Regions from separate parts of the Homo sapiens genome. Here region 1 is linked to region 2. The links come from fine-mapping of genetic effects on gene expression. A gene starts in region 2. The other region holds a variant in brackets. All regions are shown on one strand. Distances are from middle to middle. Region 1 overlaps SGCD (sarcoglycan delta). Region 2 holds the start of SGCD (sarcoglycan delta).

Region 1 (5,000 bases), 130 kb after region 2:
ACATTTAGTAATTATAAATGGTTTGTGGGTTAGAATATAGACAAAATTTTATTTTTCTGTATTGTAGTAAAAAAATCACATTAAACCAAAAGTAACTTGGTCTCAGTGAACATGGCTTGATTGGAGCATTTGCCTAAGGAAATATTTTTAGTTTCTGAAGTTGTAGCATTCTTCAGTTATTTACATTTTACTAGAACAGAAACCAAAACCACATTTTTATGCTAACTTTCTTATTTGCTTTCCCATGTGTGAAAATCTTTGTTTATTGTACTCCATTCAGAAGCTGTATTTCTTCAAAATAGTAAGGGTTTCAGCAGAGACACCTTATTTTCTTTAAAAATACAAATATTTCTAAAATAGCATTTTTTAAAAACTTGCTTTCATTCTTCAAGTTGGTCACTCTTGCTATGCCTTTGATCCTCTAAAATAATTTCTGACATATATAAAAGGGCAACTTGACATTCGCTGATTGAATATGTAGTAGTTGTTCACAGGAATTTAAATTTCTTTTATAACCTTTACAACTTCCAAAAGTTAAATGCTTAAACCAGAGTCATTTCCATAAAAAGCACAAAACAGTAAGTATTTGACACATCCATTCAAAAATGTATCAAATATTCCATCCCTGAATGGTGGCTTTAGATATTTGGGGATATTTAGTGAAGCACCAAATTTATACTATTGTTTTGGCTCACATTCAGGAAAACATAGAAGCAAATAAAATTCTCTCCACTGTTATTTCTGCCTTTGCTTCAAGACCCCTGCCCAGTAATATCTGACCCTGGGGCAAACACAGTAATCTGAGAAGATATGAAAGCTGAATCCTTTCCCTATGCCGCTCATAGTAAGGACAGAAAAATGTAAATGTCTCTCATGCCCTACTTCACAGTTGGTTGGGAGACATGTGTTCTAGTCCCTGTTTGAGAGCTTGGGAATTCTGAGACTATTTAACTCCTCTAACTTGTTTTCTTATTTGGGATATGTGTATGCAAGTGATGGTGTCCAAGAGACCTGGAGTCCAGTCCAGGCCTTTCTATAACCTAGCTGAGTGACTTTGGGCGGTTTAGGACCTTTCCCAGCTATGCTATGTCTTCCAGAGCCACTGATGTGGGCCAACCCCTCCCCAGTCCCAGCCTACAAACCACACTGTGCCAACGCCCAAGTCTTTCTGTGGCAAACACAAGGAAAGGAAGAGCCTGTCAGAAGGTGCAGTGGCCATGGAAAGAGGAGCCCAGCAGCTCTGATCCCCACAGGTTCCCAGACCTGTGCTGAAGGAGAATCCTCATTCCCCAGCAGGCAGGCAGGCAGGCACACAGGCCAGACACACTTTCTCCCTCTCCGTCCCCATAAGGACAACTCTATGTACATGCCCCAAATACCAAGACAGGCATTTCAGTTAAATATTAGTCACTAAGAAAATGGGGTTTTGGAAATTCACTTTGTAACATGTTTATTCTTTTGCGTGACTGTAGGTTTTGGGGGATTACTTTTCTGATATGTTTGCTTTTACCAAAAAGGAAAACTTACTGTTGATGTGATCGATGTAGTAGACACCAATCTGAGGGTCAAACCCTGATTCCCATCCCCATGGCAGCTCATCCCCAACACAGTCAGCAAATGACAAGGGCTTCGTTAACCTACAACAAACCAGAATAGACACACCAGTGATTCTTTCCCTCAAACCGCATATGTCAAAATTCAGCACCTTGATTAACATCTCTAAACCTCAGATTTTTATTTGTAAAAATGAAAAAAATACAATATTCATGCAGATATTGTAAGAATTAAATGAGATAGTCTATGTTAAGGATAAACACAAGTTACCTTGTTAAGAGCTCACTCATGATCATCATCACCAACATCACGATCATCCACCTGAAATACAGGGACTATGATGCTTGAATTTCAAGAGCATGATGAGAATCACATGGGAGAGCCTTTGTTAAGTGTTTAAACAAGTGACTAGAACATGGTGAGTCTTCAGTGGATTTTAATTTCTTCTTTTCCCTCAAAACTTGAAACTCTTTGAAAGATGCCAATTTTAACAGGGATTTTTTTAGAGGCTAAAGATAGGTTTCTTTTTTAAAGGAATTTAACCTGAATCATGAATAAAATAAAGCCCTTTCAAAGAATATTGTAATTATCTTATTTTTCATTCAACAGAAACCATCTAAGAGTGCAGGATCTCTTGATTAGATGCCAAAGTGAAGGGAAAAAAAATCACCTGAGTCCAAGCACCCTGAATAAAGTACTTTTTTGCCCTTTCTCTTTCCCTCCTGTCTTTGTCTTCTCCCTTTGTTCCCAACCTCCACTTTATAAGTACATAATTGTGTGTATACTATGTGGCTTACACTATTCTGAGTGCTGAGACAGATGGACATTAGATA[A/G]ACAGGTTCACTGCACTCAATGTTCAATGTTCTAGAAGAAAGCTTGTAGTCTAAGTGGAGAGTTAATAGTCTCTCTTACTATCCCAGTCATTAAATCCTTAAAACAGGACTTTTCAAACTTCTGTGTGCATGAGAATCACTTGAATGATTTGTTAAAAACAGTCTCTTAATTTAAGAAAATGAGAGTCAACGGTTTGGCAACTATTTCCCATTTTGCCTGTGTCTTGGAGGAATTGTTTTGTTTTTCTGGGACTCAGAAATAGCTCAGTGGCCACATCTTACACAGGAAGAAATGAAGAGCCCTTTCTTTGCTTCCCATGTCTTCTCTCATGTTTTAAAGAATTGTAGTAAATATTTATTAGCGCTTTGATAAGTGCTTGATGATTTAAAGAAGAGTATCTAATCCATTTAACATACCATCATTGCATTGAAAATTAGAAAAGGCCAATTAGCATCTTGACTTAACTGTTTTCAGTGAGGCGATTTTCAAGGTTTAACTAAACTGATGTGTAAAGTCATAGGTTCAGCTGGACAGCATGCATTTACCTCCTGTTTCCTTCTACAGATTAGCTAGGATTTCTTTTTTATGTTCCCTGGGGGTTTGAACAAGGAAGAGGTAAGTATTGGCTGAAAGATTTCATGCTCATTTACAGGGAAATCTTCTTTAGATAACCCCTCCTCCTTTCCACCCAGACTATTCAAATATGTGTCTTTATTGCATATGGCACCGCTATAATGAAAGCAAAGGCATCACTAATGGATTGATACCATCAATAAAGCTTCTGTTTGGCTGAGGTCTTTCCTTTCAAACCTGAGCTGAAGGTCAATTAGAACAATGATGGAAGGCAGTTAATTTCCTGTTTATAAATAGAGACTAGAAAATGTAGTATTGATTGCTGCATTTCAAGGAGGGGGACAACTACCCTCAACTGTGGGCAGTCTAGGATGATGTAATTTATAAAGCCAGAGAGGACAGTGTTGCTGCTTATATCAACTGAACAATGATTTATTTGACCAAAACCACATTAAGTCTTTGAGTCTGAAATAAATAAAATATAGCCCTGCCTTTTAAAGGTTTAAAATTTTAGACATGAAATCAAGATCTGGAAATCATTATCATAATTGTGCATATGCTAATGCTTTTGGAGTTCAAAGATGGGAAAGATCCACTGGATAATAGGCACTGCAATAGAATTCATAAAGGAAATGGGATTTGACCAGAACTTTGAAGAATGGGAAAGGTCCCAGTTAGGCATGCCACAGACAGAGAGACCAGACAGTGATGGATCCAGCATGAGCAGTCTTAAATATTGTGTCTGGTTATCAATGTTGTTGTATGAATGAGTTAGTGACTGACTGACTGACTGAATGAATGAATGATAATCTGGGGCCTGTTACCCTCAGCTCATTTATTTCATAGCCTGAGATAGTTAAGGGGTGACTCACTCTAGTATACCACAACCCCAGAGTCTTAAATTAAGAGATACAGTATAACAGCATCTACAGGATGTTAAAAGATGGTTCACAAAAAGGAGTTCCCTAACCAAATAAGTTTTCAAAACACTGAGGTGAAGTTAAACAGATCACATTTTACTGCAGGCTTCTTGGAACCTTGAACAGGTGGCTATGCCTTGTCATTCTTCAAGAAGTTAATAGAATACACAACATTTCCCAAAATGATTTGGCCACAGAAATAATGAAATTAATTAAATATGTGTGTAAATATAGACAGATATAGTAGAGATTTTTATTTCCAGAATAGCTCATAGAGAAAGTGGTTCCAGGGCATACTTTAGAAGCTGCTCACACAAAACCGTTTTCTTTTGCTAGGCTTTTCTTAAACCAGGAGTACCTTTCAATGTGAGTCTGTGCCTATGTCCAGACTTTTCATTTCTTACAGCAACTCTTCCCCTTTGTAATGTCAATTCTAAAAAGCATGTAAAAATGTCAGAATATGTGGTATAAGATGTGTATTGCATTCTTATTATAAAAGCATATTGTTTTTTAATAGTTTATAAAAGATATATAATTAGGCTATTTGATGTACTTGGTCTTTCCTGTTGAGTTAACAAATGTCAAAAAACCCATCATATACTCAAAGGAGTTTCTGTAACAGGATAACATTACCAGAAATTCTGGAAGAAAGAAAATGAGGAGAACTTTATTACTATGAAATGAGAGTAAATTTAATGTGACAAACAAGCGGATAAAATGAAACAATTTTAATTTTGTATTAAAGATAGCTATAATGAAATATAATTTTCTTAGGGGGAAAAACCTTTCAGGCTATAAATTAGTTTTCATATATAAAATATTGTTAATAAATTCATTTTTGCCATGGATTTTCACTCTTTTTTTCTCGGGTCCTTTCCCTTTTTACTTATCAGGAAAGATAAGGACTCTACTCTGGAGTTAATGTTGATAATTTTACTTCACATAATTAAATCCCAAGTCACTCATATTTACTCAAGGAGCAATAAGCCTTTAGGTTCTACTTAGGAGGGAGATATGAAGTAGAAATCTCACACTTACTCATTTGACTTTCTTCCTCTGAAAATATCCTTTGTGACTGACCAGGTTTCTTTCCTTCCTTCCTGGAAAATAAATTCTGCA
Region 2 (5,459 bases):
GAAAGAAATTATTTGCATCTTTATCAGATAAAAGTCTCCAAGTTAACATGTACCTGTAATAAATCTGGAAATGTTTTTCAATAGCAAACTATCTTCAACAAATGACATTCCCCTTAAATACTTCTTGAGAGGGCCTGTGAAACAATTCCCGCATATGATATTGAAAAAAAAAAGACTACCTTTTGGCTATATTTTTCAAGTTTTGCATAACATTTCTTAACATTAGAAGAATTAAGTATGTTTTCAGGATTTTCTAGCTAGCAGTTATAAAGCTGGGTCTCAAACTGAGATCTCTCCAGATGCCCACATTGAAATGAGCCACATAACAAGTCTTTGGGGAGACATGAGGGCAGGGTCTCGTGAATCATATCAGCATTGTTTGATTAGGGCTGAGTATCAGCTTGAGTTTTTTTTAAATTGATTACCAGAACATTCAAGATTAACTTCTTCAACTATTTAAAACTTCTTTTTTTTTTTCCCTGAAAAGAAGCAGGGCATAAAACGTGAATAATAAACAATAAGCGGTTCATTAGCAATTTGCTACCACTGGCTCTCAAAGACTGTGGAACCCCACGTAGAAGTCTGATTCTTTAGAATTTGCAGCAGCTATTTTCTCTGAAAGATTTCTTCCTCAACTTGTGGGATTTTATTTTGCTATTATTGTTAATTTAGGACGTTGCCATTTCCAAACATGAACATTGTAATTGTTAATAGTCTTCTATTTATAGAATGATAATTTTGAGCTCTTAAGGTATAAAGCCCAGTTCTCTGGAATGACACTTTGTTCAGCCTCATGTAACTGACTGCAGATTTGATCTCACTGTTTTTCTTTTCTGTGAGTTAATCTCAAGGAAAGACTTCAGTGTTATATTTAGGGAATAAATGGAAAGTAGCGGTATAGCTGGCTTAATGTTCCAATAAGGCTTCAGGACAGTTCTCCAAGTTTAAGGTGACAGGCCCCTATTACATAAAGTTAAAGCAGCAGAAAACTAGCCACTCAAATACTTTATTCTAGAACTCACACTAGATGGGAGAGTACAATTTGGCTTTTAGGTTAGAGAAAAGGTTTGCATTTTGCTCCATTAAAAAAAAAAGTAAACTGAAATGTATTTATAGGCAGTCATAAACACTTTACACAGATTATCTCACTGAATCCTTAACAATTCTACCAGTAGATTCTATTATGGTTCCCATTTCACAGATGAGGAAACAGATCGAGAGAGGTTAAGCAAGCTGACCAGGGTTTATAGTCAGTAAGATGCAGAGCTAAGATTAGACCCAGGCTATCTGATTAGAAGGCTAGATGATATCACCTTCCCAAATTATGCTGCAGTAGAGAAAGCAGATAGAAAAAGAGAGCACCAATCCCATTTCTAGCTTCAGCTCTGGTATTAACTGTCTTTAAAACCCTGGACAAGTCATCTCATTTGTCTGGGCCTCTACTTCCCTCTGTAAAATGAAGGGTGGAAACAATTTGGATTGGATGATCTCTGGGGTGTCTCCAACTCCAAAGATCTGATTCTGTAATTGCATCTTGACCTTAGATGTGCACACACACCTCCCCACACCGCCTCCCACCCCACTGCTTCCCAAGGCGAAAATCTAATCCTGCTCAAAGTGCCCAGTGTAATTTGATGCTAAACTCACGACCCCACCGAATCCTATTACTTACAACATCCCCTCAAGAACATACAACACTTAAAATCTGGCAAGCCAGTTCTTTAGAATAAGTTGCCAATGGGGTGTGATTTTTGGAAGTAAAATGTTAATACCAAAAACAGAAAAAAGAAACAGTTCAAAACAAATGCTCCTCTCTCTTTAAATCACCTCTTTTCTACAATGTTACCTTGACAACTTTGCTCTGGCTCTTTAGATATGGGGGTTTTTCAGTGTGGGAGAAGAGGGGTGTCCTCCTGTTTTGAGGTTTCCTCTTGTTGCATGGAAAGGGAAAATGTCAAAGGTAGAGCATCAAATCCAGCAGAATGTACACAGGGCATCTTGAGGGAGTGTCATCCAGAAATAATCACAGGTGCACAGAATTAGGACGCATTCTGATTCAAAGTACATTCTTTTCTCTTTTCTATTTTCCATAACCATAACACACATTCCAACAGCCTATAAAATGTTACATTTTTGGACCAGCACTGTTGCAGAACAGAGAGCAACAAAAGTGCCTGAAAAATAATTGCATTATTTTTAGTTGCTGCAGCAAAAAATGTACATATCAGGTTGAGGGGACAGCTCCGAAGAACTGTACCAGTGTGGAAATGCTAAAAATATTGCTCCCCCTCAAGCAATTGAAATTTTGAGCAAAGATTTAGGAAGCGGCAGGTAGGGAGATCAAATTAGAATTTACATCTCTCAGCTGTAATAAGCTTGTTATCAGGACTGGCAAGAGCTCAGGGGGCTGACAGGGGTCAGCTGGGGACTCAAGTGTAAGGAGCAAGTGAAAAAGGAGCAGTGTTGAGCAGAAGAAAGAGAGGACTTATCTCCAGCATCTAGCACTACAGAGCAGAGGCTGTGTGGAGAATGGCTGAAAAATCAGAATTGGTTGTAGAAGCAGTTTTCTTTCTGGTTGTGAGTATGAGCCCGGCAGACACCATGAGCGCTGTTGCAGGGGAGTCGGCCTGTGCTTGACACATGTGTTTCCCATTGATAGCTGGAGACAGCCCAGTAGCTGTGAGTCGGTCTGACAAAGCCATATTGAAGTACGGAGTACGGTTTCAAAGCAGTCAGAAAAAGAACGGGAATGCTGTTCAGGAAATTCTTCAGGCATGGGCAGGGACTTGGCTGCAGTTCTGCAGTTGGAAAATCTGACTGGGGCAGCTTCTGAGCGCAGGCTGGGCCTGCACACACTCAGCGGGCCGAGTGGCCACCTCCTTCAGAGCTGCTCAGCACGCCCTGGGATCGCGGGCGGTTTTCATCGGCCGGTTTGTGAAACGGACAAGAGAGGTAGGGTACTGTTCAGTTCTTGCGTTTGCACGCGTCTGTTCACTTTCTAAGCTATCTGCCTGCTGTATTTGCAGGCACTCCGAGTTTTTAGTGTGTGCATGTGTGTGTGTGTGAATTAGCAAGTTAGAACTCCGTCATGTAAACAGTTGGCATGGGGCTCCAATCTGTGCTTTTCCCCCTTTAAGGTCTGATTTTCAGCAGGGCAGAGAGACTTCTTTTGAAAGTTAGGATTTAGCTGGCAACGTTATTGTGTAAAGAGGAGTATGTGAATTCCTTATGTTGTCACCCTGCTCCAACCATCTGTAACTTTTCCTTTCTGCGTGGAAGGGCCGTTCACTGGCAAGGAAGATAATTTCAGATGAAACTGTCTGTGTGTTTTGCTTCACTTCGCAAGAGTTTTAATGGGGAGTTTTTTGTTGTTGTTGTTTTTTAATAGTAGAAAATGGCTCTCATTTTAGGAGGGAATCAGAGTTTGAAGTTTCTACGTTGGATGACACTTTCAGAGTGTCGAAACAGATATGTGTGTATGGGTTTCTAAAATCTTTTATATAGGAGTTTGACTGTCATTATCTGGGATTTGACTGTCAGTGATATATTTGCCTAGAATTATGCTGGATCAACATTTGTAATTCTGTTTCTATAATCATTTCCAATTTTCTCACTTGAAGTAATTTGCAGTTTTACTCTCAAAAAACACTTCTGTATTTTAGGAAACATAGATAATAAAAAAGTAACAGAAAATGGCAGTTTACTCAAAATTCTTCTTAAAGGACAGAGACATGATGGTGTGAATTTTATTTCATTGATCTCTTGGTTTTATTTTACACCTTACTGCAAAAGAGCTTTTTATAAAAATCAAAGTTTTAAAAATTTTCAGCACAACAGGGATCTTAGTGTTCCTCTTCAGTTTTGGTTCTTCTTTATCAACTCTATTGCAGTATAGATTTTTTCCTCTCATAGGAAAGCTATACCTTGTTTTATGTACAGCATTTAGAAAACACACAGTACAATGTCATTGCATTTGAGAGACTGGTTCAGCCCAAAGCCGAGCTAAACCTTACAACTGCTTTACAATTACTAGCACAGCAATCTGTGACAACATTGGTTTTTTCCGAACGGGGCTTGGCCAAAAGTCTGGTTGGGGAGATGGATGAATGAATGGAATCTTGGATACTTCTTGAGTAGCTGAAGAGTGACTAGACCTCTTAGGGTGGATCTCTGTGACAACAGGTGTGCATTTACTTGTGTCCTACAATCTTTAAACAAGTAGCTAATAGAAGAGCCTGAAGTTAATGCTGAAAGAAAAGTGGAGAGCCAGCATTTCTCATTGCTTCCTCTGCATAAGACCTAGAATGAGAAGGCACACATTCTGTCCTGTTGGTAGAAGGTCAGGATTTTCAGCCAGCGATTTTCTTTTTTCTTCCAAGTGTTGTACTTGGAGGAGGGACCTGGGACAGGACTGGCAGCAGGATATCTTTAAGAGATGGTTCATGAACATTTTCTTTATTAGTTTCATCTTCGTGTTGGGGTGGTGTGGGGAGGGTTTGGGGACTGCAGGGCTTGAGGAAAGGAAGGGGGTGTAGTTAGAAGTCAGGATGGACTGTGACCTTATTTTTTTCTCTAAAGTGCCTAATGAGTGAGAAAAATGCCAAGACAGATTAGGAACTGGCATGAACCGTAGTCAAGCCCACTGCCAATGAAAAAGGGAGCCTTCCATGAGCTCGGGTGTCATACTCCTCTATATTTAGCGTGCGTCAAGCATTGAGCAGAAGAGGCGTGAAATAGCAACTCCAGGTTGCAGGATTATAAAGAGCAGTGCTTGAAACTTGGTAGAAACTCTATAGTTTCTCTCTTTTTTAGAAGTAAAGTAGGGAGAAGTCAAGCTCTCTTGACATCTGAAGAGAAAAAGTAAGCAGCGGAAGGGGGAAGGATACAGAGGAAGAAATCCAGGACAGAGGTGGAGGCAGTGAAGGGAGAGGAATGGCCACAACACAAACTGGGCAGTGAGGGTGGAGGGAGGAGCCCTTGGCACAGGAATGAAACACATGTATTAGAAATAGCCAAAGCCACCAGGCACTGATTTGTTGGACTGGAGGTGTGCAGATACTCAGTGGCCTTGGTGAAGAGAATTGTTTTAGCCACTTCACCACAGGAGACTGCATGGTCAGCCTGCCCTGCCTTCTGGAAGTAATCAGAAAGCACATTTTGTAAGAATGGCATTGCCTGAGGGTTCAGATTTCCTAGGCAAGGAGGGGGCAGGCTCTTCAGACCTTATTTTTAACCCATATTTGTTCCTTGCAGAGACATTACTGCCGGGAGTGTTGAGTGAAGGGACCAGGTGGAGATGGTGAGTAATTCCCGGGAGCGAAGCTTGTTCAAGGCCCTGCTCATGGTCATTTTATTATTAACATAAACTTTTGAAAAAGAGAACAAAGTGTTATATATGCCTTATCCTGATGAAGACATTTCTTTAATTTTACTTTTTTATTTTAAAAAATCTGCAGGCC

Evidence for each region. PIP is the estimated chance that this variant, and not a neighbour inherited with it, causes the effect. A credible set is the group of variants that fine-mapping cannot tell apart.
Region 1: its variant is the best candidate, but not a certain one, in a credible set for the expression of SGCD in thyroid (GTEx, PIP 0.65).

The regions. Positions count from the first base shown.
Region 1 is chr5:156,456,871-156,461,870 of GRCh38, forward strand. The region is part of intron 3 of SGCD (sarcoglycan delta); the gene reads left to right. Among named protein-coding and RNA genes, the nearest start is that of SGCD, 130 kb to the left of the region's middle. The variant A/G (reference allele first, on the strand shown) is at 2,388.
Region 2 is chr5:156,324,281-156,329,739 of GRCh38, forward strand. SGCD (sarcoglycan delta) reads left to right here and starts at 2,884. Exons shown (of 9, transcript NM_000337.6): 1 at 2,884-2,952; 2 at 5,254-5,299. The coding sequence starts at 5,297. All of the region lies in intron 2 of LOC124901120 (a long non-coding RNA gene), which reads right to left.